Linked DNA regions of Homo sapiens. The protein of the gene in region 1 interacts with the protein of each later gene in a biochemical or structural test. Each region holds a gene or a part of one and is shown on either strand. Other genes may lie near its edges. The genes, in order: CHUK, IRF7, BCL10 and BCL3.

The links.
Region 2: of the proteins of CHUK (region 1) and IRF7, one has a biochemical effect on the other in vitro, tested with the Homo sapiens proteins (one study listed by IntAct).
Region 3: the proteins of CHUK (region 1) and BCL10 form a complex in vitro, tested with the Homo sapiens proteins (2 studies listed by BioGRID, with this or other methods).
Region 4: of the proteins of CHUK (region 1) and BCL3, one has a biochemical effect on the other in vitro, tested with the Homo sapiens proteins (one study listed by BioGRID).

The regions. Positions count from the first base shown.
Region 1 is NC_000010.11:100,212,590-100,219,610, forward strand, and holds part of CHUK (inhibitor of nuclear factor kappa-B kinase subunit alpha), read right to left. Parts: intron 6,771-7,021; coding exon 6,681-6,770; intron 6,544-6,680; coding exon 6,419-6,543; intron 6,237-6,418; coding exon 6,129-6,236; intron 5,542-6,128; coding exon 5,406-5,541; intron 1-5,405.
Region 2 is NC_000011.10:612,951-620,757, forward strand, and holds the start of IRF7 (interferon regulatory factor 7), read right to left. Parts: upstream 3,001-7,807; 5' UTR 2,963-3,000; intron 2,698-2,962; 5' UTR 2,415-2,697; coding exon 2,395-2,414; exon of another isoform or gene 2,369-2,394; coding exon of another isoform or gene 2,310-2,368; coding exon 2,147-2,309; intron 2,058-2,146; coding exon 1,847-2,057; intron 1,585-1,846; coding exon 1,526-1,584; intron 1,450-1,525; coding exon 1,224-1,449; intron 1,088-1,223; coding exon 1,001-1,087; intron 916-1,000; coding exon 835-915; intron 646-834; coding exon 256-645; intron 168-255; coding exon 49-167; intron 1-48. Other genes in the region: CDHR5 (cadherin-related family member 5 isoform 1 precursor), read right to left, coding at 4,401-4,820, 5,004-5,161, 5,649-6,230, 6,356-6,440, 6,524-6,637, 6,731-6,931, 7,117-7,214, 7,346-7,436.
Region 3 is NC_000001.11:85,266,619-85,273,639, reverse strand, and holds part of BCL10 (B-cell lymphoma/leukemia 10), read left to right. Parts: intron 1-2,733; coding exon 2,734-3,022; intron 3,023-5,657; coding exon 5,658-6,013; 3' UTR 6,014-7,021. UniProt on the Homo sapiens protein: Plays a key role in both adaptive and innate immune signaling by bridging CARD domain-containing proteins to immune activation.
Region 4 is NC_000019.10:44,744,336-44,751,708, forward strand, and holds the start of BCL3 (B-cell lymphoma 3 protein), read left to right. Parts: upstream 1-4,372; 5' UTR 4,373-4,455; coding exon 4,456-4,711; intron 4,712-6,891; coding exon 6,892-7,045; intron 7,046-7,373. UniProt on the Homo sapiens protein: Contributes to the regulation of transcriptional activation of NF-kappa-B target genes. In the cytoplasm, inhibits the nuclear translocation of the NF-kappa-B p50 subunit.

The DNA.
Region 1 (7,021 bases):
TTGGGTTGCTTTTTCGTTTTGTTGATTATTTTTTCTACTGTACACTTTTTAGTTTGAAGGCCCACTATTATTTCCACTTACAAATCCTAACACAGATGCCCAAATAAGTGGTGCTACAGAAATACTAAACTGAGGCTGGGCGTGGTGGCTCACGCCTGTAATCCCAGCACTTTGGGATTACAAGACAAGTAGATCACTTAAGGTCAGGAGTTCAAGACCAGCCTGGCCAACATGGTGAAACCTTGTCTCTACTAAAAACACAAAAATTAGCTGGGCTTGGTGGCACAACGCCTATAATCCCAGCTACTCAGAAGGCTGAGGCAGGAGAATCGCCTGAACCTGGGAGATCAAGGCTGCAGTGAGCCAAGATCGCGCCACTGCACTCCAGGCGACAGAGTGAGACTTTGTCTCAAAAAAAAAAAAAAAGAAAGAAGAAAAAGAAAAAAAAAGAAAAAAGAAAGGGATACTGAATATTCCCAACACAGAGAAATTATGTTTTAGCTGATGGATATGCTAATTACCCTAATCTGATCACTACACAGTGCATGTATTGAAACATCACTATTTACCCCATTAATTTGTATAATTATTTGTCAATTTAAAAAATTAGGCTGGGCGCGGTGGCTCACACCTGTAATCCCAGCCCTTTGGGAGGCCAAGACAGGTAGATCACTTGAGGACAGGAGTTTGAGAACATCCTGGCCAACATGGCAAAACCCTGTCTCTACTAAAAACACACAAAAAATTAGTTGGCCATGATGGCGCACACCTGTAATTCCAACTACGCGGGAGGCTGAGGCACGAGAGAATCACTTGAGTCTGGGAGGTGAAAGTTGCAGTGAGTGGAGATTGCACCATGGTACTCTAGCCTGGGTGATAGAACAAGACTCTTATCTCAAAAAAAAAAAAAAAAATTAAAAGCGTATTAACAATTTTGTTTGTTTGTTTTTGAGACAGAGTCTCTCTCTGTCACCCAGGCTGGAGTGCAGTGGTGCGATCTTGGTTCAATGCAGCCTCCACCTCCCAGGTTCAAGCAACTCTTCTGCCTCAGCCTCCCGTGTAGCTGGGACTACAGGCATGCACCACCATCCCTGGCTAATTTTTGTATTCTTAGTAGAGATGGGGTTTCACCATGTTGGCCAGGCTGGTCTCGAACTCCAGACCTCAAGTGATCTGCCTGCCTCCACCTCCCAAAGTGCTGGGATTACAGGCATGAGCCACCACACCTGTATCAACAAAATTTTAAAAAAGAAATACCAAACTGTTTTTATAACCTGAAGCTGATCCTTTTCATGTGAATTCCAAATGTCATAACACAATTGCCAGTATTTCTCTTATTAAGAGACTTTTCTTTAATATAAATCTTTATGTTTAAAAGGGGAGTAGGGAAATCTTCAAAACTGATACGGATTTGCAATACAATTATACTACCTGAGACTTTCCATGCCTTCCCAATTTAGGCAGATTTCACACTATGACAGCTGCCACTTATAGCAATAGAAAATCCTATAATGGACATCTACTTTTACACAGGATATTAGAGTATGTCATCATGGCATCTCACTACCAAAGCTCCAGGCCAGAAGGAAGCAAAAGAAAGAAGAGGAAATACAACCTAAATTTATCTTTTTGCTCACTATAATATTTAATGAGTACCTACTATTGGTAGGTACATACTATTGGTACATACTATTAAGTGTGTTGTGGTGGTAGTAGTGGGTATACAAACTGAGTACCTTATGATCCTTGCCTTCCATACAGTTATAGTCAAACAGAAGATATTAAGATATACTAAGAGAACTAAGGTACCAGGCAAAATGTGATAGGTGTTATAATCAGTGTAAAGTATCATACACTTGGCAGTAGGAAGCAGGCACTTCATAAAGGAGGCACTACTTGAGCTAAACTTTGAAATGAAAGACTGAAATGGGAAAAGACTGAAAAGAGTTCCTTTAGGCAGAAAACAAGGTGAGCAGAAGCAGAAAAGTAGAAAGGGATGGGCATAATCAGAGAATACAATTAATCCAGTTCAAATGTACCTAAAATGATGGCCTCTCAGGGCATTAGTAAGAGATAAGTCCAGGAGTGTAAGTTGATATGAAACCAAGATAGGTTTTGAGTACCAATGAAAGGGTCTGGACTTTATTCAATAAGTGAAAGAAAACTATGCAAGCCTTTCTAAATTGAGAACCTGGCAAGCTCAAAATTGTTAAGATATTCAAAAGATAAATTTGATAAAATAATTGGATATATCGATTGAAGAGAAAGGAAGAGTCAACACATCCAAAGTTTCCCACCTGGGTAACTGGAAAGGTGACAGTGCAAATAAGAAGTGTAGGAAATCTATAGAGGTAGATTTAATGGGCCAGGTGCAGTGGCTCATGCCTGTAATCCCAGCACTTTGGAAGGCCGAGGTGAGCAGATCACCTGAGGTCAGGGTGTCAAGACCAGCCTGGCCAACATGGTGAAACCCCATTTCTACCAAAAATATAAAAATTAGCTGGACACGGTGGCAGGCACCTGTAATCCCAGCTACTCGGGAGGCTGAGGCACGAGAATCACTTGAACCCAGGAGGTGTAGGTTGCAGTGAGTTGAGATCGTGAGACAGAGTGAGGCTCCATATCAAAAAAAAAAAAAAAAAAAAAAGAAGTAGATTTAATGGATAGAACAAATATGTTCAGTTTTTAATAAATTAAGTTGTAAGTGCCAGTGGAACAGCCAGGTAGTTATACAGTTATACAGCAGTTATAAGTCCTTGGCAGAAGAGTCACAGCTACAGAGATAAATAACTTTAGGAGTTAGCCATATGTAGTTTATAAGTAAAGCTATACAGTTGAAGAGGCTGCCTAATAAAAGAAAGGAAATGTAATGGAAAAAGAGAGAACCAAGAAGAGACTCAGAATATAGTTACATTTAGGGGCGTGAAAGAGGAGGCAAAAAAAAATAATAATTAAATGCTACTGTTTCATCATTATTTTTAGTGGTAGGTTCAGTACACTTCTTTCAACTCTTCTACATATCTAAAGATGTTCATAATAAACAGTTGGAAAATATGCATACAATCAGACTTGCTAAGCTATTTTTTCAAAAGGGAAATATTTCAGTAACTGTTTTGTTGCTTCCTTTTTTAAGTGAAAATCAAACAGACATCATTCCTTTCTTGTACAATATATATAAACATTTTGGGAAAATGTCCTACAGTAACACCAAGCTGTTTTGCAGTTCATGCTTCTGTACTTTTGCTCATGATGCTCTGCTGCCTATAAATCTCTCCCGCCCTCACCCTTTCCCTAAAAACTCTCATTCTTCAAAATTCAGTCCTATTATCATGTCTAACAAGCATCCTTGAAGCTTCTTGAACTACTATAACTAGTACCTTATACATACCTTATTCTGCATAACCTCATAATAATATTGATGCTTTGAGGAAGATATTACTGTCCTTGAGATAGAGAGACATTTGCTCAGGTTCACAGATAGGTAAATAGTGGTGCTGCAAACTGAATTAAAGTCTGTAAACTATAAACTCCATAATGTGGACTCTTTCCCCGTGCCCTATAACAAGAGGCTCACAGATGCCCTTCAGAGCAGAAACTATGCTATGATTCCTATGACAAGTATGAAACAAATGCGAGATGTGGTTCATTCACAGCTGAAATGTTTCAGAGGCAACACAGAACTAAAGCCCTGCTTTCCTAACACACTGAGGGATAATTTATTCTTTGGCACATTAGAAGGAAACCAAATCAAGAAGAAGCCAGGTATCTTTTCAGTGTTAGCCAAGAATGACATCCACATGGCCTCAAGTTTCTATTTAATAAAGTATGCCAAGGTCGGGCACAGTAGCCCACATCTGTAATCTCAGCACTTTGGGAAGTCGAGGTAGGAGGATTACTTGAGGCCAGGAGTTCAAAACCAACCTGCTCAACACAGTGAGACCCCATTTCTACCAAAAATTTAAAAATTAGGCAGGAGAGGTGGCGCACACCTGTAGTCCCATTTACTCTGGAGGCTGAAGCAGGAGAATCACTTGAGCTCAGGGGTTGCAGACTAAAGTGAGCTATCTCGCCATGTACTCCAACATTACATGATTATAATTTCTCATTTCAATTTTAGAAACCTGTATACTACAAACAATCAATACAAATGTAAAGACTATTGATGAGAGTTGTTTCTGGGTACACTGCATAATAGAACTATCTATAGCTCTCATTCATATCAATAAATAATTTACTAAGAACCTGATACATGCCCTGCTCTGTACAGAATGCCATGGTTAGGAAGGGTAGGGTGGGTGATTGTTAATAAAAGAAGTAAAACAATCCCAACATTGAAGAAGACAACAGTCTATATGAAGATGCATGAATGGAAGACGAGAAAGAGAATATAGCCTTTAAATGACAAATTTTGTGGCAGAGACCATTTAAAGAAAAGCTCTTAAAGATATGCCAGTGTAGGTGAGAAGATACACAGAAATGGATATCCAGGCAGAAGGATAGCATCTGTCAAAGCACAAAGGTAGATAACGGGTTTGAGGCATAAGGAGCAGTGACAAGCTGGTCTTGTATGAGGTAAAGGTTAAGAGAAGCAGGTACAAGGCAAAACTTGGTTAGGGAAAGCCCCCCCAAAAAACCAAGCAGATCAGTTTACACTTGACTTGTTAAAAAAAAAAAAAAAAAGAACTATGTTAGTTTCTTGGGCAGAAGAATAAAAAAGCATTTTCAGAAGATGAGATAGGTAGTACATATTGAATGAACTATAGGTTAAGGAGTAAGTGCAGAGCCATGAAAGGCAGATAGGAACCTTCCTTACCAAATCAAATCCAGTATGACTAGACATAAATGAATCGAGGATAATGGCAACAACATGGGAAAAGGTAAATAAAAAAGTTGCTTCAAAGGAGTAATTAACAAAGACCACAGAGAAGCAAACTGAGACAGCTTGCTAAATAAACTTTTTAAAAAATCAGCTCTAAGAATATAATTTTCTTTTTCAAATAAGCATCAGGGCTGGACGCAATGGCTCACGCCTGTAATCCCACTTTGGGAGGTGGAGGCGGGCAGATCACCTGAGGTCAGGAGTGCGAGACCAGCCTGGACAACATAGCGAAACCCTACCTCTACTAAAAATACAAAAATTAGCTGGGCATGGTGGTGCACACCTTTAGTCCCAACTACTCGGGAGGCTGAGGCAAGAGAATCGCTTGAACCTGGGAGGCGCAGGTTGCAGTGAGCCAAAAACATGCCACTGCACTCCAGCCTAGGTGACAGAGTGAGACCCTGTCTCAAAATAAATAAATAAATAAGCAACAGGAAAAGATTATTAAACTGTATTTATGCTAATTTTCCAAATAAACTTGTTACTTTCAATGCTGGTCTTATGCAGTAGACCCATTAAGACTAACCTTCAAATTCAAAATGTGATCCATTAATACAAAACATCTTGGCTGCTTCAAAGTAAGGTCAACAGGTCCTCCTCTCTGCTGAGGGTCCCAATTCAACATCAACTGTAGCCAGTTTTCCATGGGTTCTACTACTAAACTAGAAAACATACAAAATAGGGTGAAAATCAAATCATTATGTTCCAATTTCCCTTTATACTGTTAGAAAGGTAATTTTGCAGGTTGTCCATTTTCTTTCCCACATCACTTGTCTGTACCATTTCATAAATTACTTTCAAATTCATGAAATGACAGGGGACAAACTTTTTTCCATCAAAAACTACTCAAAACTCCACATATGTTAGTTACTGACAACTCTGACGGATGAGTCCAAATCCATTCTGCAAATAACCCATTTACTTCATTATCCTAAGAGCCTTCTTAGGACATATGTCAAACAGTTAAATGGCAGTTCTTGTTTCCACCAGACCTGTGCTGTCCAAAATGGTAGCCACTAGTCCCAAGTGGCTATTTATATTTACTATTTATTCAAAATTCGTTCTCTAGCCAAACTAGCTACATGTCAAGTAGTCAATAACCTCATGTGGCCAACAGAAATATAGAAGGTTTCTACATCATCACAGAAAGTTCTACTGGATAATGCAACTTGAAACAGACAACTACTCTCCTGCTCCTTTACAACTCTGGAGAAACTGAGGCAAACTTCCTTAACTAAAATATACTTACCTACAAAGGCTATTTGGTTGAGGTAAATGGCTACTAAACCGAACTTCTCCTGACATCTCTTCACATGCAAATATACACTTTGGATCCTTCTTCTTAATCTTCTCATGCCTATAAAATCAAAAGCTACCTCAGTTGACAAAGTGATTCTCACAAATTAAGATTTCTTGCCATTTAATTATATTTAATTGTATATTTCAAAGGCAATTAAACAATTAAAGAAAGAAAAAAAAAGACAAATGAAAAAATTTCCATTCCCATTAAGCATGCCCAAGTTCTCATCCATTTCTTACCAGGTAAATGGCTGCAGATGATGCAAAAAAGGCCTATATCCAGCAATACATTCAAATACCATGGTCCCAAAGCTCCAATAATCAACAGTGGCTGTGTAAGGCTTATTCTCAAAGAGCTCTGGGGCCTTCAAAAGAGAAAATGCTTTAAACACCAACACTGTATGGGAAAAGCTACTTTATTTTTGACCTACTATATTCATGATCTTCAGAAATAAGAGAATCCTATACACACTTAAATTCAAAGAAACAAAACAGGTCTCACCAGATACTGCAGTGTTCCCACAAAAGATGTACACAGACTTCCTTGATCAACATCTTTGGCATATCCCAGATCAATTATTTTATGTATTATCTGCAAAATAATAAGACAGATTAAGTATTAAATGGTAGAGAAATTTAAAAAGGAAAGACAACAATATCCTTACGAGGCTGTAGACAGGGTAGTGGTGAGGACCTTGGGCTCTGTAATAACACAAAAATATTTCAAGTCTGAGTGCCACCACTTAACTAGGCATGTGATCTACCAAGTTATTTAACCTCTCTCAGTAATCTAATTGGATGACTAACAGTCCCTGCTTCACAGAATTGTTATTAGGATCCAAT
Region 2 (7,807 bases), on another chromosome or scaffold:
CAGTGGGCCTGAGCACATGGCCTCCCCTCCTTGAGGCTCTGGTCTCACCTTCACCAGGACCAGGCTCTTCTCCTTGGGCCTCCCAGCTGACAGGTCCTGCCCGAAGCCCAGGTAGATGGTATAGCGTGGGGAGCCACGGCGCTGCCGTGCCCGGAATTCCACCAGCTCTGAAGAAGGGGACTCTGCTGAGTACCTGGCAGGCAGGTGCTCCCAAGGACCCCTGGAGACAGCCCCCCAGGCAAGGGCCTCACTGACCTTGGAAGAAGACTCTGAAGTCGAAGATGGGGGTGTCACAGTTCCGAGGCAGCAGGCAGGCTGGGGTGGAGGGGCTGGCGGAGCCTGGGGGTCCGCCCACCTCCCAGTACACCTTGCACTTGCCCATGCGCCGGGCCCACAGCTGTGGCCCCCGAAGCTCCAGGTGCAACCCAGGGGCCACGTGCCGCAGCAGTTCCTCCGTGTAGCGCAGCTGCTTCTGGTCCGGGAGCTCGGCAGGGCTGGGGAATGCTACCTGCTGGGGGTCTGTGGCCCGGACAGCTGGGTCTGGGGGGCCGTATAGGAACGTGCAGCTCGGGTGTCCCACCACCTTCTGCAGCACCGTGCGGCCCTTGTACATGATGGTCACGTCCAGCGCCCCTGGGCTGGGCTCTGTGTGGAGACCAAGCTGTGAGTGACGGGGGTGGGCGGGGACAGGCTGTGAGTGACGGGGGTGGGCGGGGACAGGATGTGAGTGACGGGGGTGGGCGGGGACAGGATGTGAGTGATGGGTGGGCGGGGACAAGCCGTGAGTGACGGGGGTGGGCGGGGACAGGCTGCCCCTTCCTGGGATGCACTCACCTTGCACCGCGGTGCAGGCGCTTGGGGAGGGTGACAGGTACGGCTCTGCCTGGTGCGGGGACTCTGGGGCCGCGGCCTCGCCTGCATCCGGAAGGGAATCCTGTGCTGGCACCTCATCCCTAGCCTCTCCCTGTGCCCCAGGCCTCCCAACCCCTACCCCTCTCACCTGTCGTTAGTGCCGCGGGCTGGGGCCCGGGGCTGGGGGTCGTCTCTACTGCCCACCCGTACAGCTCCCCAGCAGGGAGCCCTGGGCCTGAGGAGGGGAGGACAGTGGGAACGGTGGTCCCCTCCTAATTCTCCAGCTCCCCAATCCCCAGCCCCCTTCTAAAGTGTCCGTCCAGGTGCACTGGCCCCTCCCGCGCTCCCCCCCTCCCCGGGCACGCCCACACCTCCAGCACAGGCCCCAGTCAGGGGAAGCCCTTCTTGTCCCTCTCCAGGAGCCTTGGTTGGGACTGGATCTGCCCCCCATGACGCTGTCAGCAGATGGTCTGCCAGGCAGCTCTGTTGCACTGCCTGGAGCAGGAGGTCCCCCTTGTCACCAGCTGGGGCAGGGAGGGGGCCTGGGGCTTGGAGTCCAGCATGTGTGTGTGCCAGGAATGGCCCTGGGGGCCCACCCTGCAGGGAAAAGTCAGGGTGAACGTAAGCAGCTCCGCGGCCTGGCAGGAGGAGAGGCAGGCAGAGAGAAGGGTACCTGTGGTGGTGGGACAGCTGCGGGGGCCTCTGCCTCAGTCTGGTCCGTGCCTGGGCCTTCTGAGAGAGAATGGGGCAGGCGTTAGGCCCCGACACCAGAGTGAGAGATACAAGGAGAGCCTGGTGTAGCCCCCACCAGCTTCCTGGCTGTGAACCCTTAGGCTGTGGCCTGAGGAGGTGGGGATGTGGCTCTCCACCTGTCCTGGGCCTGCTGGCAGCCTCTCCCAGAACAGCTTCTAAAACCACAAATCTGACCCAGAGAATGTTCCCCTTTGCCCAAGCAGGACGAATGCCAACGCCCTTGGCAGCCGGCGTCGCTCACCTCGCCAGCACAGCTCCCGGCTGAGCGCGTACACCTTGTGCGGGTCGGCCGGGTCCCCCGAGTTATCCCGCAGCATCACGAAGCGACGCGTGCTGCGCAGTGCGCAGCGGAAGTTGGTTTTCCAGCCGGCGCGCTCCGCAGTCTCAGCCTCGGGGGGCGGGCCACCTCCCCTGCTGCTAGGCGGCCACCTGCCGCGGGCCACAGCCCAGGCCTGAAGAGGGGGACAGAACACGTGTGCCGGGCCCGCGGGGTCCTAGGCGGGCTCTCCCACCCGGGGCGGGGCGGGGCTGGGGTCCCCACCTTGAAGATGCGCGCGTCGGCCTCGCTCAGGTCCTTGCGCGCGAAGTGCTTCCAGGGCACGCGGAAACAGGTGCGGGCCTCGTCCAGCCACTGCAGCCCCTCATAGCAGCCGCTGCTGATCTCTCCAAGGAGCCACTCTCCGAACAGCACGCGTGGGGCTGCCCTGCGGGTGCCCGGCCGCGGAGAGTCAGGGCCGGCTGCAGGGCGCTCGGGGACTGGCATCTGGAGAGGGTGGGCCGGGCTCTTACCTCTCAGGAGCCAAGGCCATTGCTCCTTCTGCAGGGGCAGTTAGGTGGCGGTCAGGTGTTATAACAGGGGAGGTAAGGGCTCCTGTCGCAGCAGACGCCAGGCCGCGGCCACAGGTCGTGTGGCCAGGTGTCACAGGTGTCCACAGGTGTGGACTGAGGGCTTGTAGCCACCGACGCTGCCTCGGTATGGATCTCTTGGCAGAGGGGGCTACAGGTGTGACTGCAGGTGTGGCCGGCGCGCACACATGAAGTCACAGGTGTTGAACCAGTGTCCAGGCCTGGCGGGAAGGCGCAGGCCGGACCCTGCGGAGACGGGAAAGGCGACGTCAGGGGCGGGTCAGGCTCCCGGGAAAGCGAAACCTAAACAGTGGCGCTTCGCACCCTCCTCGATCCCACCCCGTCCGGTTCTCAGCTCCGCGGAACCCCGCCTCCGCCTCCGCCTCCCTCCCCGCCCGACCCTCATCTCTCAGGCTCCCCCAGCTCTTGGCTCTACCCCTCCGGGGTCACGGAGCCCCCACGGAGGCTCTCGCTCCCGGCCTGCACCGCGTGGGTCTGGGGTCCCCAGTACCTGGGTGCCAGAGCCGCCGGGACGGGAAGTTTCGTCTCGCGGGGAAGCGGAGGGCCGGCGCTTTTATGGTGGCCAGGCGGGAGTTTCCGGGAAGGGCGCGCGCCGCCTGTTCTTATTATTGGATGCGACCAGCGGAACCCCGCCCCGGCCAGCGCGGAGTAGGGAGGAGTGGAGGGCGTTGGGAGTGGCTGCAGTGAGCCGAGATGGAGCCACTCCACTACAGCCCAGGGGACAGAGCAAGACTCAGTCTCAAAAAAAAAAGGAAGTGGGTAATGGGAGGTGGACGTGCCTCGAAAAAGGGGCAGCTGCACCGTTTGCGTTTCTTTTTTTGAGATGGAGTTTCGCTTTTGTTACCCAGGCTGGAGTGCGGTGGCACAATCTTGGCCCACCACAACCTCCGCCTCCCGGGTTCAAGTGATTCTCCTACCTAAGCCTCCCGAGTAGCTGGGATTACAGGCATGAACCACCACGCCCGGCTAATTTTGTATTTTTAGTAGAGACGGGGTTTCTCTATGTTGGTCAGGCTGGTGTCGAACTCCCGACCTCAGGTGATCTGCCCACCTCGGCCTCCCAAAGTGCTGGGATTTAGGCGAGAGCCGCCGTGCGCAGCCCCCTTTGGGTTTTTTACATTGTTCAGTCAAGAATATCAGATACTCTCACAATTAAAACATTTGGAAAGGAATTAATGGTGTATTTCCATTAGGGAAAGTGCTGACAAGCCGCAAGGGATCCCTTGATGGTTCTGGGCATGGGCGCCCAGCCTGGGCTCTGGCTTTGGGAGCAGCGAGGGGAATGTGTCTCTCACCCCTAGGCCTCCTGGTCTGGCTCCTGCTCAGGCCACACGGCGCACCCACCCCCAGCGCGCCTCAGTCCAGGTCACTGGGCAGGGTGTTTACTGCTGCGCTCCAACCCAAGCATGTAGATTTCAGAAGGGGACTAGGACCCCCGGCAGGTGTTTGAGACCACCGGCTCCCAAGTGCGTCGCCTTGGGGGTTTGCATCGGCTCCTCAGCCTCCCCAGGCAATCTCTGTGTAGGGTCGGGAGCGGGAGGTCTGAGATGAGCCGGGTGCCTGAGATCTCCGGTGCAGGTCGGGGGAGGGGAGCCCCCCTCGGGCTGTGGTTAGAGCGGGAGAGGAACTTCCCAGACTAGCTGGCACAGAGCCTCGGGAAGGCGGCGGGCACTGCAGGTGGTTTACGGGAAGTGCTGCAGCCTTGGGGTGGGGACAGCGTGGCCAGACCCACCGCCTCATCTGCACACCTGGGCTCAAGCGCTAATGACGACAGGGGACTGAGTGAATGGGACCCCCATGGACCCGCGCGCCTGCCCCACGCCATGGCCTGGGTTTCGGGAGCCTTGCTTTATTCTGCCTCGGGTCGGAGGCTGGGGGAGCGAGACCTCCAGTGCCCGTGCGGCTGGGGGAGAGGGTGGAGGGGCCACTTAGATGTAGGAGTCATCACCACCGGGCGCATCGTAGGGACCCCCACCCCTCCCCGCGCCCTCGCCCTCATCGCCGCTGCCGGAGTCACTGGCGCCATCCACGTCCAGGGTGGGCGCGTTGAGAACGACCACGTCTGCCTCCGTCCCGATGTCCTCGCCAAACCAGACAGCCTTGTACCCGCCCTCCGGCCGCCGCTCCTTGGTCAGGATGGACCTCACCGCCGTGGGGCTTCCGCCAGCTCGGGCCGCTGCGGGGGGCTCAGGGGCACCGCCTGGGGAGGCAGGGCCGGGGGGTGCGGGCTCTGCGGGCATCGGTGCCTCCGCGGGCTTGGGGTCGTGCGTGGGGCTGGGGACGGGCGCCCAGTTGGCCTTGTGGTCAGGGAGGAACGCCTGGTTGTCAAAGCCTTGGGGCTGGGGCTCCTGCAGGCGGGAGTCGAGGCGTCAGCGGGGTCCCTGGGTCTCTGCAGCCTTGGCCCTGCACACCCTCATTCCACGCTGGACACCCCTCCGTCTCCACATCTGTCCCTCTGCCCTCCCCTCTCCTGTCCCCCGTCCCCCACTTCCTGCCTGGTCGCCTGCCCTGTTCTCCATCCTGGGCCTCACCGGAGCTTTGCCACAGCAGCACTTGAGCCGGGGGCCATAGTGCTTGTGGACAAGGACGGCGAGGCCAAGGAGAGCCAGCAGCAGCAGCGCACCCAGCACCCCGCCCAGGGCCGCCATATCCACCACCGAGAAGCGCTTGTCCTCCGAGGGGCCGCCACCTGGCATCGCAGTGGAAAACGTCATCATCCCCGCACTGTTGAGTGCCCCAGGCATTTCCCATGCCAACCTGTGCCAGGCTTGGGACACTTGGGTTCCACCCAGGCCTGGGCTGTCTCCCAAATCTCAGGCTCTGCTGACCCTGGCTCAAGGGGCCTGTGTGTCCCATCGAGACCCTGCCCACCCCCTCCCCCCCGGGAGGCCAAGCTGCTCACAGGAGCTCACAAGAGGTGCAGGGACTTGCAGGGTGAGCGGCAGCCGTGGGAATCGTGGGATTCGCTGGACCCCACATCTGGCCTCTGTCCTACACACATCACAGGTTACCTCACTGGGGGCCTTGGGCCTGTCTGTGTCTGTCAGTCCCAAACAGACTCCTCTTTGGGATTTCATGGTCAGGCCAGGTCAGCCTGGGGTGGACCCTTCCTACAGCGTTTCCCATACCAGCCAATGACCGGAGTCAGGGAGGGAAGGCAACAGAGTGGGTGCTACCTGAAGATGGGGTGCTCTTGCTGAGGGGCATCGGCTGAGAGGTTCCTGGCTCTGGGGTCTGTGCTGTGCCCCCACCGGGTGTGGTTGGTTGGTGGGAGGTGCTGGTTCCCATACCGGGGGGCATCGGCTGAGAGGTTCCTGCCTCTGGGGTCTGTGCTGTGCCCCCACCGGGTGTGGCTGGTTGGTGGGAGGTGCTGGTTCCCATACTGGGGGGCATCGGCTGAGAGGTTCCTGGCTCTGGGGTCTGTGCTGTGCCCCCACTGGGTGTGGCTGGTTGGTGGGAGGTGCTGGTTCCCACACCGGGGGGCATCGGCTGAGAGGTTCCTGGCTTTGGGGTCTGTGCTGTGTCCCCACCGGGAGTGGCTGGTTGGTGGGAGGTGCTGTTTTCTGCACCCGGGGGCCCCCCGGGTGTGGACGAGGTTGGTGGCCTCAGAGTTGTGCCAGAGGGTGGATGAGGGCCTGTGCCTCCCCCAGAGCTGGTCGTGGAGGGTCCCTGGGAGGGCTCAGGGGGTCTGGGGACCTCGGAAGTGGTGCTGGTCCAGGGCCCAGTTGTTCCTCCAGCCTCTGGGGATGGGGGGACATCTGGGGGCCGGGAACAGTGCTTGGGCTTGCCTCTGCCCGCCCCTTGCACACCTACCGCGGGAAAGGAGCCACCGAAGGGGCTTATTTGGAGAACCCTGGGGGCTCACCTGTGGAGGGGGGCTTACCTGTGGAGGGGGGCTCCTGTTCGGAAACTTGTATCTCAATGACTGTGGTTGCGGTGCCAGAGGTCACCGTGTTGTGGGCCTCAACCTGGGGCAGGAAGGGGCTTGTCCCTCCTAGACACATCTTTAAGCCCCACACCCTTGGAGATGCCCGCCTGCCCTGCCCCGCACCTCTGCGTAGAAGGCTCCCGCCTGTGCCAGTGTGGTGGTGGTCAGCACAACCTCTCCCTCCATCCGGAAGTGTGAGTGGTTGGTAATTCGATATGTGATGGCCGAGTTGAGGTCCTGGACAGGGTCTCATTGAGTCCCCGGCCAGGCTGCCTCCCACGTACAGCCCTGACCCACCCACAGAGGGGAGGCCTTGGATGCACTCTCTACCGAGAACTCCGGGTCCTGAGCCTGGATCCTCAGAGGCTGAGAAGGGGCAGCTGCATCCTTGACCACAACGCCCGCTCCAGCGCCACGCGCCACGGTGCCACGATACAGTCTCTGGGGGAAGCGGGGCGGGCTCCCGGCCGCAGCCACAGCCTCCACGGTGACCTGGGTCACTGAGTAGCGGGCAAGGTCGGCCTGTTGGCCCTGGAGGCGGGGGAGGCAGCAGTGACTAGTGGGGTTGAAGGTGGAGCTGGCGCTGAAGGCTGGGGCTCAGGAAAGGCAGGTGCAGACTTGGCGGGGGCCCTGCCCCGGCCCCCCAGCCCTGACCCCCCGCCCTACCTTCCACCCTTCCCCCTCTGCCCTGCCCCCCATGCAGGTGCCCACCTCACCTTCACCAGCAGAAGGAAGGTCATGGGGCTGGGGACACTCCTGGCCACGGTGAGGTTGCCCGAGTCTGGGTGGATGATGAATGTACCATTCACGTTTCCTGGGAGGATGATGGAAGTGCTCAGCCCCGGCCCCCTGAGGCCCAGGGACCCAGCCAGCTCTGCCCAAGGTGGGGATGGAGACAGGGACAGAGGGGGTACAGGGCATTGTTGAGGGCTGGGCCCCACTCACCCCTAAAGATGCTGTAGATGATGGGCTGGTTGATGCCGCGGTCTCCGTCCTCAGCGTAGATGGGTCCGGGACGCAGGACGAGGGGAGATGGCTTCAGGGATGGCGGAAGGGAGGGCACGTCGTGGGGCTGGGGTGGATGGCCCCAGCCTGGCCCCTCTGACTCCCCATCAAGGGCAGGGTTGGCTGAGGAGGGGCCCAGTCCCGCTGGTGGCCGGGCGTCCCTGCCTGCCTAGGACAGTCCCTTGTCCCAGCATCACAATCAGTAACACCCCTGTGGGTCCCTTACTAATGAATGAGTCCAGTGGCCCAAAGATACTGAGTCCCATTTGCACAAGGCTTGTCTTGACGGGTAAGCAAACATTTAGGAAGTGGGGGCTCCCGGGGTCTGCATTTCTGCCTCCCATGTACTGTTTGGTGGCCCCAGGTGCCTTGGTGCCAGGAAGGTTTGCAGACAGCCTGTGT
Region 3 (7,021 bases), on another chromosome or scaffold:
GAGGAAGAGGATGTAATTAGATTAGTACATGGAAATGTCAGATCAGCAATTACATCTGCAAAGTCAAAGATCAGAAGAGAGATCTGAGCTAGAAATGTAAGTGTGGAATTGAATGATTTTACCTAGAAAGCTGTGAGCTAGAAGAGAAAAATGGTGTAAAACCCTTTAAAGAGAAGAATTTTAAAAAGTGAATTGTTAGCTTGAAAGTAGGGTAACAACAACAACAAGAAAATGATTGAAAAGTTGTATCCACAGGGATGGGAAGAAAACCAGGAGAGTGTGGTATTCATGTAACAATTTTCTTGTTTCAGGGAGGGAGTAGTCAACTGTGTTTATGCAGCTGAAAAATGAAATGAAGACTGAAAATATTTGGCAATAAGGGGGTCATTGGTGACTTCGAGAAGAATACTGGGGCAGGATGGAAATGTCTGGGAATGAATTGGGAAATGAGGTGAAAGAAGTGGAGTCCTGGTGTATAGAAAGATGAAGTGTATACACAAGGTGCTACAAGGACAGAGGACGGGGTGCCTAACTCATTCTGGGGAGTTAGGTAAACCTTTCCAAAGAAGATGACCACTGACCTAAATCTTAAAGGACGAATAGGGGCTTTAGGGTCTGATAAAAGCAGACAAAAAATACGTAAGGAAATGTAGAGAGACAGATAGTTTTAGGTAGAGCATAAATTTTCAGGACAAAGGTAGTGATAGATTAAGCTGGAGAGGTAGGTAGGAGCCATATTATCAATGAACCTTGTCTTCCATAATTAGTTATTATTGAGTACTTACTGTGTACAGAGACTATGCGTGGCCTTCATATATAGTATTCCCATTTAGTCCTCCTTGATGTCCTGTGAGTTAAGTTTTTAATCCTTATTTTATCAATAACATACCTGGAGCTTGGAGTGGTGAAGTAACTTGGCCCAGCTCTCACAAGGGTGAGTACTAGATTCAAGATTTGCACTGAGGTTGATCCAACTTTAGAGCCATGCCCTTAACTTTTCTACTCTTCTGCCACGTAAAGGAACTTTATCCTTTAAGACAGGGCAGAACATTGTTTTTAATTTTTTTTCTAAATTAACAAAATTTCAATATTAGAATTTGCTGGGCACAGTGGCCCACACCTATAATCCCAACAACTCAGGAGGATAAGGTGGGAGGATCACTTAAGGCCAGGAGTTCAAGACCAGCCTAGGTAATGTAGCAAAGATCCCTTCTCTACAAAAAAAAAAAAAAAAAATTAAAAATTAGCCGGGCATGGTGGCTCACACCTGTAGTCCTAGCTACTCAAGAGGCTAAGATGGGGATCACTTGAGTCTAGGGATTCCAGGCTGCAGTGAGCTATGATCAAGCCACTGCACTCCAGCCTAGGTGACAGAGTGAGATCCTTAAAAAAAATTTAGTAAAATTCATATAATACTCCAGATTTCCATTTTCTCCTGAAGGAGAAATGTTGAGGAGGGGGAAGGAAGTAGTAAGTGCAGCTAGGTTTCTATTGTTAATAGTCCATGCCAGATATGATAAGGACCAGGTCCTGGACATAGTTATTTGCTCACTCTGTGCTTTTCCTGTATTTGACCTATAATCTTTTTTTTCTGGGCCCGATCACATTGTTTTATAATTATTACCTGTGATATGTATTCCCAGCTAGACCATGAGCCCTTTGCATGTAGGATTCAAATCTTGTTCATCTTTGTATACTCAGTGCTCAGCACTCGGCATATTAGGAATTTAGATTTGTAAAATACTTGTCATGTGAATAAACAAGTAAATGTGGAACTTCGTAGACCAAGAACCACAGGAACCCTTCACCTAGCCTACTTTCCTGCCATTACCTTTGTCATTATTACTAACATATATTGATCACTTACTATGTACCAAGCGCTTTTCTAAGCACTTTGCATATCTTTATTCCTCATATAACAGTCAGCTGAGGAAACAAGCACAGAGGAGTTAATTACTTGCCCAAGATCATATATCTAGTAAATAGAGGAGCTAAAATACAGTCACCGGTACCAAATTATTAATGCCATTTATTGAGATCAACATGGATTTTCTACTAATTAAGCTCTTAGGCACTTCTCAAATCTAGGTTTGCTTTTTTGTGGTGTCCTTTTTCTTTATTTCTTTCATTTTTCGAACACTCCCTATTCCCCACACATCTTTCCATCTCCCTTCCACCAAGACTGATTCACTGAGTTAGAGTGTAGTCTTTCCAGCTGACCCCAAAGACAGATACATTATGGGCTCTTTCAGTTTAGGGTTTTGTTTTTTGTCTTTAACAGTTTAAGGAAATGGAGTAATTAATAACAAACATGAGAAAGTTACAGACTGTGAGACCTCTCACTAAGTTATTGGTCCTGACTAATTCTGCATTCCTTGCCAACTGATAGCTAAAATGTACAGTAGTGTTTGCCCTCATCTTTACTCCCGAAGATGGCCCTCAACAGACCTCCCTGTTTCCAAGGACCCAGGCCCTCTAGATTCAGCTGGTCCCTCTTCACAACAGCCTGGTCTTGGTTTTTAGGTTTGAAGGTGAGATCAAAGCAGTGAGGAATGTCTAGGACCTACTTGTGTCTACTTGGACTTTCATCTTAATTAGCATGCATTTTAGAAGGCCTGAGCCTCCTGACTTTAGAACATTGTCTCACACCAGCTAAGACTGCCAACTAATAGTCACGTATGTGATTTTCTTAGATGTTAAAAATAACATTGAACCATATTTTATGTCTTTTAGGCCTTAGAAAATTTACGTGTATACCTGTGTGAGAAAATCATAGCTGAGAGACATTTTGATCATCTACGTGCAAAAAAAATACTCAGTAGAGAAGACACTGAAGAAATTTCTTGTCGAACATCAAGTAGAAAAAGGGCTGGAAAATTGTTAGACTACTTACAGGAAAACCCAAAAGGTCTGGACACCCTTGTTGAATCTATTCGGCGAGAAAAAACACAGAACTTCCTGATACAGAAGATTACAGATGAAGTGCTGAAACTTAGAAATATAAAACTAGAACATCTGAAAGGTAAGATATCTTAATTATCTAAGAGCTAATTTAAATGTAATAATGCTTTTAAAAAATGCAGAGCAGGCCAGGTGCCTGCACTTTAGGAGGCCAAGGCAGGAGGATTGCTTGAGGTCAGGAGTTTTGAGACCAGCCTGGGCAACATAGCGAGACTTTGTCTCTACAAAAAATTAAAAAATTAGCCAGGCATGATGGTGCATACCTGTGTTTCCAGCTACTCAGGAGGCTGAGGTGGGAGGATCACTTAAGCCTGGGACATTGAGGCTATAGTGAGCCATGATTGTGCTACTGCACTCCAGTCTGGGCAACAGAGCAAGACCCTGTCTCAGAAAAGCAAAACAAAAACAGAAATGATCATTTTGCTTTCAAAAAGTTTAAACTTCAAAATTATATTCAATTTGCACTTATTTTACCTTATTTGACACTATTACATTGAAAAAGTGGAATATCTCTCAATATCCTGTATTTGTATTCATTTAATACCATTTATAGAAAACTATTATGAAATCCCTGCATACATAAGGATTTGTTTCTAAAGTCAGTAGAATGTAAAGTTAATCTATTCAAGAGTAAGCTCTGAAAATACTGTACATCACACATAAAGAACAGTATTTAGGCAAAGTATTGTAAAAGTCCAACTCTGCTAGTTTTTCTTATGATCACCAGTTGATCACAAGATGAAGTAATTGGCATATGTTTATAGGAATCACGTTGCATAAAATATTCATGACTTTAAACTAGTCTGGCAAGATGTGAAAGCATGGAAACAGATTAAGAGAATAGCAGATTCACCTGTCCCATTTCACTCTCACTCCAGAATATACACTCACTGATTGGAATATTGTGTGGAATTGCCTACACAATTTAAATCCCCAACCCCCTCCTGCCTCTGTTCCTCACTGTCTCTCTCCAGAGCACATAAATGTGCATGTGATGTTCTACAGCTCTTCTAGGCATTAGGGATACAGAAAAGAATAATTTAGGGCTCTGCCCTTAAGGAACTCATAGTCTATAAGTGTCCCCTTGCTGGGACACATTACAAGTTTTCCCTTTTGAGCCATATCTAAGAAAGTAGTTTGTATAGCATGGAATAGACATGCTGACTGTACTGTGAGGTTGAAAAACTAGTGGAAGAAGTGACATGTAAGTGCCCTTTATAGACTATGCAGGTTTTGCCTAAAAATTGTCAACTCAGGGTTTCTGTGCCTGTAGGTTGAATATTTGCTAAGCCTAACAGAAGGGTAAATTGTGTTTGTGTTTATTCTTTCAATCCTCTGGATAATGGTTAACTATACCCTTTGGATATCATAAAATTCTTTGATGGTATCTAAGTTGTTTTCTGCTGTAGCAATACCTGAGACTGGGTAACTTTTAAAGAAAAGAAATGTATTCATTTCTTACAGTTCTGGAGGCTGGTTAAGTCCAAGACCATGGCGCCAGCATCTGGCAAGGGTCATGCATGGTGGAAGGGCAGAAGATGGAAGAGCAAGGGAGGGCAAGAGTGTGAAAGAGAAGAAAAAGGAGTCGAACTCCCAAAATAACTAACCCATTCCCGTGATAATGGCATTAGTCCAGGGCAGAGCCCTCATGACCCTGTTGCCTCCCAAAGGCCTCAGCTCCTAACACTGCTGCAGTGGCAACCAAGTTTCCAACATGTGAACTTTTGGCGGATACATTCGTACCACAGCTAATGGGAACAACCACTGTCATTTGAGTAAACTGTGAGGTTGAGAAACAGGACATTATCTATTGAATTGTAGTTCTCACTTTCCCACAAAGTAGTCCTGGAATGTTGGACATGACTTAACTGTCCTGTGCCTTTTTTTTCTCTTTTTTTTTTTTTTTTTTTGAGACGGAGTCTTGCTCTTGTCACCCAGGCTGGAGTGCAATGGCATGATCTCAGCTCACTGCAACCTCTGCCTCCCAGGTTCAAGCGATTCTCCTACTTCAGCCTCCTGAGTAGCTGCGATTGCAGGCACCTGCCACCACGCCTGGCTAATTTCTGTATTTTTAGTAGAGATGGGGTTTCGCCATGTTGGCCAGGCTGATCTCAAACTCCTGACCTCATGATCTGCCCACTTCGGCCTCCCAAAGTGCTGGGATTACAGGCGTGAGCCACCATGCCCCGCCCTTTTTTCTCGTCTTTAATAATAAGAGACTATCCTAGGTGACCTCTAAAATTCCTTTTAGTTCTAATATCCTATTATTCAAGAATTAGCCATTGTCATTGATCAACAGATAGAATTTTAGCATCTGCCGTTTACATTTTTTTATTAGCTAATATTTTTTGTACCAGAATACTAAAGAATATTTATTGTGAAAGCTATTTCTTATTTTATAAAAAATTTTAGGTGGTTAAGTTTATATGTACGCTGTACCTTAAATGAGAATTACAGCATGTCGTTTAACTTCCACGAGACTATTTTGTTATATAGAAAATGCAAATAATAGTATACTTCATGGTTGTTGAGAAAAGCAAATTAGATTTGAAATAGATTATGACGGAAATTACAAGTTGCTATTTAAATTTTGATTGTGGGGTAACTAGCTTGTAATCTTTAACAAGTCACAAGATGGACAGTGACTCCATTTTTTTAGTTACTTTTTCATTTACATCTGAATAATTTTATTGTAGGACTAAAATGTAGCAGTTGTGAACCTTTTCCAGATGGAGCCACGAACAACCTCTCCAGATCAAATTCAGATGAGAGTAATTTCTCTGAAAAACTGAGGGCATCCACTGTCATGTACCATCCAGAAGGAGAATCCAGCACGACGCCCTTTTTTTCTACTAATTCTTCTCTGAATTTGCCTGTTCTAGAAGTAGGCAGAACTGAAAATACCATCTTCTCTTCAACTACACTTCCCAGACCTGGGGACCCAGGGGCTCCTCCTTTGCCACCAGATCTACAGTTAGAAGAAGAAGGAACTTGTGCAAACTCTAGTGAGATGTTTCTTCCCTTAAGATCACGTACTGTTTCACGACAATGACACTTTATTGCCTTTTAATTTTTAATGATGACAAAAAATGTTTTAAAGAATATGACTTTTTATAAAATGGCTGTAATCATTTGTTTACATTTGATGCATGTCTTTTAAAATGCAATGTAAGCATACTTTGTAAATAGGATTTTTAGAATTAAAAAAGCATACTTCTAGGATAGCTAACTGTAAATCATGTTGATCATGTACTTTTTAGTAATTTCTTTTTTTCCTTTTTAAGGTCTTTCAGTACTTTTTTAAATATTTTCTATTTTAAGACTGATTTTAATAGGGAATATATCTCTATTTGAGAATAGACCCTTACTAGGAAGAACGTTTTTTCCTCAGTGCATTTGTGCTAGAAATTTTCAAGAGTCTAATAGTCTTTGCCAGTCATTCAGCAGCAAATTTTCAGCATTAAGCTGTTCCTGTTCAGTAATAAAACCGGTCACTGATGGGAAAACTGCCAATATAGAAAAATAAAAATCTCTTTTCCACTCCATTGTCGTATAGGCATGTAAACAGCCTCTTTTTGATACTGGAGGAACACTTGATGGAGTGTGAGCCACCTAAGATCTCGGTTTGCCAAAATTCATTTCTAATTAACCTTACTAATTATACTACTTTGTTAGGATTTTCACATTCTTGGCTTAATCATTTTCATTCCTAAAGAAAAATATCTTGGCCTAAACCTCAGTTATTACATGTAATTTGATGAGGTATTTTTTCCTTTTTTCTTTTTTTTTTTTTTTTTTTTTTGAGACAGTCTTGCTCTATCGCCCAGGCTGGAGTGCAGTGGCGCATTCTAGGCTCACTGCAACTTCTGCCTCCCATGCTTACGTGATCCTCTCACCTCAGCCTCTCAAGTAATATAGCTGAGACTACAAGTGTGTGCCACCATGCCTCACTAATTTTTGTATTATTTTTGTAGAGACGGTGTTTTGCCATGTTGGCCAGGCTGGTCTTGAACTCCTGGACTCAAGCAACCTACCCAGCGTGGCCTCCCAAAGTGCTGGG
Region 4 (7,373 bases), on another chromosome or scaffold:
TCTAAGCCCAGCATGTTGAATTCTATTTTCCCCAATGAAGCAGGTCCTGCTATTGAAAACACAGGATATTTGATGAGGACAATAATAATATATAATGTTATATTATTATTATTATTATTATTATTATTATTATTATTATAAAACTAATAGCAGCTAAATTGCATCAAGAGCCTTCTATACATCAGACCCCATGGGACAGAGTCATATTTTCTTGATGTGATCCACTCTACAGATGAGGAAGCTGAGGCTCCACGAGGTTAAGTAACTGCCCGGAAGTCACAAAGCTAACGATCAGGAGACAGGACTTGGACCCAGGCCTCAATTCAAAACAAAGTAGGACAAGGAAGCCAGATGCGGTGGCTCACGCCTGTAATCCCAGCACTTTGGGAGACCGAGGAGGGAGGTTCGCTTGAGCCCAGGAGTTCGAGAACACCCTGGGCAACACAGTGAGACCCCCTGAGTCTACAAATTGTTTTTTTTATTAGCCAGTCATTGCGGCACATGCCTGTAGTCCCACCTACTTGGGAGGTTGAGGCAGGAGGATCATTTGAGTCCAGGAGTTCAAGGCTACAGTGAGCTATGATCTCACCACTGCACTTCAGCCTGGGAGACAGAGCCAGATCTTGTCTCAAAAAAAAAGCAGGACAAGACCCAGTAATTGAGCCAGATGGGAACTTAGGCCCTGACCAGCCCTACTCTCTCCTCTTAGAAAGGGAAATTGAGGCCCCTGAGAGCAAGAAAGCTGCCTCAAGCCTACAGACTTCCAGATGGAATTTCGTTTCCCTCTCAGGACTTTGAGCAGGTAAATTCCTGGCCTTTCCTCCCCCAGGATGGGTTGGGGAAAAAGAAACAGCAGCTGGGGAGGAGATCTGAACAGGTACAAAGGGCGGCCTGCATGAGGGGAAAGTGGTTAGACACCAAGCAGAACTTCCTGGCCTCCTCTGGGAAGTTTCTAAGACTCATCCAGGGGCTGCCCCTGCGGGTGGGGGCCCTCCAGAGGCCAAGGCCCAGAGAAAGGAGACCCTAGTCCTTTCCGCCTGGGGTGCAAGGAGCCGGGGGAGGGTGGGGGTGGCCATCCTGGTTCCGCATCCTCCGTTCCCGACATTGGAGGGAGGCTGCTGTGGGAGCTGGGACTTTCCTGAGAGCAGAAGATTCTGGGAAATTAGAGACAGCTGCAGGGCGGGGCTGCCTCCCAGCCTCCCTTCCCTTCCCTCCCCTTGGTCCCTGCTGGCTCCGGAGGCACGCCTCTCCACCCCTCCACCCCACCAGCTCCTCCTCCCCTAGTCCATGCCTTCCACCCTCGGACCCTCAGATCTTTTCCCCTGAGCCTCTTTCTTCTCCCTCAGATCTGGCCTCTACCCTCAGACTCTCTCCAAATCTTCTTTCCTCAGACCCTTCTTTCCCCTCCAACTCTCTCCTCCTCCCTCAGAGCTGCGTCCCCTCACTTAGTGCTTCTCAGACTTCCTCAGACTGTGCCCTCTCCCTCAGATACTCTCCCCTCCCCTCAGACCCTCACCTCCTCACTCAGACCCTCACTTCCTCCTTCAGACCCTCACCTCCTCCCTCAGACCCTTACCTCCTCCTTCAAACCCTCACCTATTCTCTCAAACCCTCACCTCCTTCCTCAGATGCTTATCTCCTCCTTCAGACCCTCACCTCCTCCCTCAGACCCCCACCTCCTCCTTCAGAGCCTCACCTCCTCTCAGACCCTCACCTCCTCCCTCCAAACCTCACCTCCACCTTCAGACCCTTACCTCCTCCTTTAGACCCTCACCTCCTCTCTCAAACCCTCACCTCCTTCCTCACATGCTTATCTCCTCCTTCAGACTCTCACCTCCTCCCTCAGACCCCCACCTCCTTCAGACCCTCGTCTCCTCTCTCAGACCCTCACCTCCTCCCTTAGCCCCTCATCTCCTCCCCCCGAACCTCACCTCCACCTTCAGACCCTCACCTCCTCCTTCAGACCCTCACCTCCTCTCTCAAACCCTCGCCTCCTTCCTCAGACTCTTATCTCCTCCTTCAGACCCTTGTCTCCTCCCTCAGACCTTCACCTCCTCCCTCCAAACCTCGCCTCCACCCTCAGACCCTTATTTCCTCCATCAGACCCTTACCTCCTCCAACAGACCCTGTCCTCCTCCTTCAGATCCTCTCCCCCTCCTCCCACTAAACCATCTACTTCTCTCTCAGACCTATCTTCCTTCTTCAGATCCTCCTCCTTCTGACCCTTTTATCCCTCTTCCAACCTCAGAGAACCATCAGCACCCTCTCTTCCAGCAGCACCGTCTCTCCCAGCCCTTCGAAGCTCCCACCGGACCCATCACATCTTCTCCCCTCTACAGTCCTGCTAGGTTGGAACCACTGCACCAGCTGCCCTGGGATGCCAGGAGTGGGACAGGCTTGGGTGTCCTTCCCACCCTACCTCTGAGGGTCCCCACCCTAAGCCTCGCCCCTCCAAACCTCAGCTTTCCTTTCTGTGCATTGGGATAGTGCTCCACACCCCTCTCCTGTGTCTGAGGGTCCCCAGGGGTGGGGTTGGATGGGCAGGGAACACAGCCCCCAGCCTGTCCAACCGAATTCCTCCCCTCTTCCCTTGCTGTGGCCCCCACAACACCAGCAGGCAGGGGTTGCCATTGGTCCCATTTTCCAGAAGAACAAACTGAGTCTCAAGGCAGGGGATGGCTTGTCTGAGGTCCCACCGGGAGCAAGGGGTGGAGGTGGAATTAACACAGGTCTGTGCTCGGGATGTTTCGCCATGAAGGGGGATAAGGGAGATCCAGAGAGAGGTCGAAAGGAAGGGAAGGGGTGAGGCCTCTCCACACAGCCACTTCTCACATCCTGGGTTAACGATCCACTCGGGTGGGGCCCGAGTCCGGCCAAAGTCCCTTCCCGGGGCCCCAATACCCACTTTCAAGGTCCCAGGGGACACAGAGACAGCAACAGAGATGGGGAGACAGAGACAGAGGGCGGGGCAGGAGACAACCAGAGGGAGGTCAGGCAAGTTTCGAAGACAGAAGGAGACCGGGGGAGAGAACCAGAGAGACGCCGCGTGCCCCCTGGGCAAGTCCGGGGTGCAGCCCCCATGCCCCGCCCCCTGTGTCCCCAAAGCCTCCCTCTCCGCCTCCTGTGACTCAGTGACCCGGACTCAACCCCAGCGGCTGCCCCGCCCCCAGGGAAATCCGGGAAAGCCCCGGACCTTCGGGGCCCCACCCCGGGGCGGGGAGAGGGAGAGGAGGGGAGGAGACGGGGAAGAGTCCCGCCTCCCTCCTCCCTCCCTCCCATCTCCAGCCTGAGTCATGCCCCCAACCCGCCTAGCCTGTTCCCCACCCATCAACCCCTCCTCGAGGTGGGAGGGGAAGTCGGGGGGAAGCCAAACTGCTCCCCGCTCCTGCAGCACCGGCCTCGGTCGCGCTGACTCTGGCCTGGTGTCCGTGTCTCTTGCTATCTCTCTTTCTCTCAAGATCTCTGCGCCTGTCTCCATGTCTCTTTCTCTCTGTGCACCTAGGATTTTCCGAGCACCCACCCCGGTGCCCCGCGGGCCCCGGCTGGGGGCAGGGCCCCCAACGAGTGCAGAGACACAATCAGTGGAGCGCTCCCCACCCTCACCCCACCCCCAGCCCCTTTAGACCCACAGCTGATGAGGCACGTGGAGTGGCAGAGATGGAAGAGGGGAGGGAGAGGAATCGTTCCTGGCCGCCTGCCGAGTGCCAGTCCCTGCCCCGGGTGCGTCTCTTCACTCCCACTAAGGAGGAAACGGCTCAGAGAGGGGAAGTGTTTGGCCAAGGTCACCCAGCGAGTAAGTGGGAACCGAGATTCCAAACCCCGTCCCAGAGATGCCAAGGCCTCCTGAGAGACAGAGAAGCAGACAGCAACTGAGAGGCAGAGAGATGGTGACAGACACAAAGAGACAAAAGAGAGAGACAGAGACGGAACAGAGCACACAGAGACAAACGCGGGGTTGCGGAGAGAAACACCTACTCAGACAGGAGAACCAGAGAGACAGTTACAGACTCAGAGATAGAGATGTTGAGAGATAGGGCCAGAAAGACAAAAACAGAGGCAGAGAGAGCGGCCCTTGGCAGCAGGGGTGGGGACACCCCCCCACCCCCCGACCCCGCCTCCTCTCCCCCCACCCCTCCTTTCCTCTCCCTCCCCCGCCGAGGCCTGGCTGCCCCAGGCGCCGCGGGCCGGGAGGGGGCAAGCGGGGCGCGGCGCGGGCGGGGCGCAGGGCAGGCTGCACCTCAGAGCGGCGGGAGCAGCGGCGGGTCCAGGAAACCCCTGGGGCGTACGGGTGGCCCCGGGGGGGCCGGGGGCGGGGAGGCGGGCGGCCGGCACCGCCCCGGCCGACAAAAGTCCCTTCAGTTCAGCCGGCTGCAGGGGAAGTCCCGGCGCCCGGCGAAACCACCCTCCCGTGCAGCCGAGCCCAGCCGCTCTCCGGCCGCCGTCCCCGGCGGCCCCATGCCCCGATGCCCCGCGGGGGCCATGGACGAGGGGCCCGTGGACCTGCGCACCCGGCCCAAGGCCGCCGGACTCCCGGGCGCCGCGCTGCCGCTCCGCAAGCGCCCGCTGCGCGCGCCCTCCCCGGAGCCCGCCGCTCCCCGCGGCGCTGCGGGCCTTGTCGTCCCCCTGGACCCTCTGCGCGGCGGCTGCGACCTGCCGGCGGTCCCCGGGCCCCCCCACGGCCTGGCCCGGCCGGAGGCGCTTTACTACCCCGGTGAGTGGCCCCCGAGGGTCCGGGCCGGGTGGGATCCACACAGAGCATAGGGTCACCAGAGCCAGGAGGCAGAGCTTGAGGCACAAACCGGTGTCTCTCCAGGGACCTGGGGGACAAGAGGATATAAGCCCAGGTTCCAAGGATATAGATATGAGATCATCGGGGAGCCAGTAAGCTGTGCCTTGGGATCTGGGGATTTGGGGACCCTGGGGGGCAAAGCCCAGGGGCTGAGTGACGTGGGGGGGGGGGGGCCAGGGACAATGCCCAGTGGTACAAATATGGGGGTGTCAGGGAATCAGGGCACAGAGCCTGGTATCCTAGGGGCAAGAAAGTACAAGCTCTTAAGCCAGATGTGTAGCGTTATGAGGAAGCTGAGCTGGGCTGGAGAAACTGGGGTTCCCTGTATCCTGATATTATTAGAATCAAAGGGAGTCAGGGTAACAGAGACTGGGGTTCTAAGGAGACAGATACTGAGGATCTCAGGATGTCACAATCTCAGGAACCAAGATATCTGGAGACATGGGCATTATGAAAACAGAGATGGGGTTCTGAGCACCCCAATATCTGGGATCACAAGGATCCAAGGAAATGAACCAGAGCTCCAGGGACCCAGATACCAGGGGGTCTTGAGGACCCAGGAGAACAGAGACCCGGGTTTCTGGGTACTCAGTTATGTGGGGCCACAAGTGATCAGGGTCCTATTTGAGGTCAAGATCAGGTGGGCAGAAGGGATCAGGGGACTGAGGATCCTAAGATTGGGTAATTCTGAGACTTTGGGTAATTTAGAGGCAGGATGAAAATTTCAGGGGTCTCCAGACAGAAAGCCTCAAGGCCTCAAGGCCTGGTATTGGAGATACGAGGACCTGGAAACTTGGGAGTTCAAGAACAGAGGGCCCACAAGGATCAGCAGATGACGAAGACCACACACTCTTCTCTCCATCCTATCTCCATCCCTGATCTCAAGAAGGGGTGTCCTCTACCACAGCTGTGGCCACGTCACCATCCCCAATTGACCCCCAAAGCTGCAGAGAGCCGTTCTACAGAGCCCCAAAACTTTAGGTAGTTTCTGCACCCTCCACCCCATCAGCGTGACAGCTGGAGAGCCTCAAGCTATGTGCATCAGGAGTTCTGCCACGGCCTCCCAGCTTTCCTATTCCAAGAGTGAGAAAGCAGGCCTCAGTTTTCCCCGTCTGTGTGATGGGTTGGTATGGATTTGCCTGCTGCCATGGTCCCCTCGCCTTTGTTTGTTTTTGTTTTTGTTTTTTGAGACAGAGTTTTGTTTTGCTCTGTCGCCCAGGCTGGAGTGCATTGGCGTGATCTCGGCTCACTGCAACCTCCGCCTCCCAAGTTCAGGGGATTCTTGTGCCTCAGCCTCCCGAGTAGCTGGGATTACAGGCATGCACCACCACACCTGGCTAATTTTTGTATTTTTAGTAGAGACAGGGTTTCACCATGTTGCCCAGACTGGTATTGAACTCCTGACCTCAGGTGATCCGCCCGCCTCGGCCTCCCAAAGTATTGGTATTAGAGGCATGAGCCACAGCGCCCGGCCTGCCGTGGCCCCTTTTTAAACAGTTTGATCTAAAATTACCCATGCGTGGTGGTCAGCATCTGTAATCCCAGCTACCTGGGAGGTTGAGGCAGGAGAATCGCTTGAACCTGGGAGGCAGAGGTTGCAGTGGGGCAAGATCGTGCCACTGCACTCCAGTCTGGGCAACAGAGCGAGACTACATCTCAAAAACAATTTGAACAGGCTTCTGGTAACACCTCCTCTCTGCCTCCACTCTCCCCAAACCCACTCTACATTTATCCCACACCCTGCACCCAGCAATTCATCAGCCACAAAATCACTCTGCAGACAGTCCCTGGGGTCCCCTGCTAGGTGATGATGGGTGCACCCTCTGTTCTTAAGGGACCCTTTGTCTGATTGGAGATTGAGGTCAGAAGATAAGTGACAATGAGGGTGACCAGCCCTAGAGGGAGAGGAAGCTGCCAGAGCCCAGAGGAGGGACGTGGAAGGGGGTTTGTTTTAGGCCCTGAGGACCCTGTATGGGATGCAAAAGGGACCCAGGAGAAAGGGCAGGTGACACCACAGGAGCAAAGTTTTAGAAGTGGGGGGCGGGTTGAGGGTCTGTGGGTGTGGCCTCACCCATGTCCCTTCTCTGTCCTCCATTGTCCAGGAGCCTTACTGCCTTTGTACCCCACTCGGGCCATGGGCTCCCCGTTTCCTCTGGTGAACCTGCCTACACCCCTATACCCCATGATGTGCCCCATGGAACACCCCCTTTCTGCTGACATCGCCATGGCCACCCGTGCAGATGAGGACGGAGACACGTGAGTGACAGTCCCCTATTAAGGGGAGGGGTGGTTGGGAAGACCAGCCGTCCATAACACAGGGCCACTCAGCTCCCAGTGGACCTGAGTCAGAACTCGGTCTCCACCACAGGCTGTGTGACCTTGAGTAAGGCCCTTCCCTGCTCTGAGCCTCAGTTTCCTCCTCTGAAGAATGGGCACCTTGAGAGCATTTACCTCCTAGGCCACTATTTTTGTTTGGTTTTTGTTTTTGTTTTTTTGAGACAGGGTCTCACTCTGTCGCCCAGGCTGGAGTGCAGTGGCACGATCTCAGCTCACTGCAACCTCTGCCCCCCAAGTTCAAGTGAGT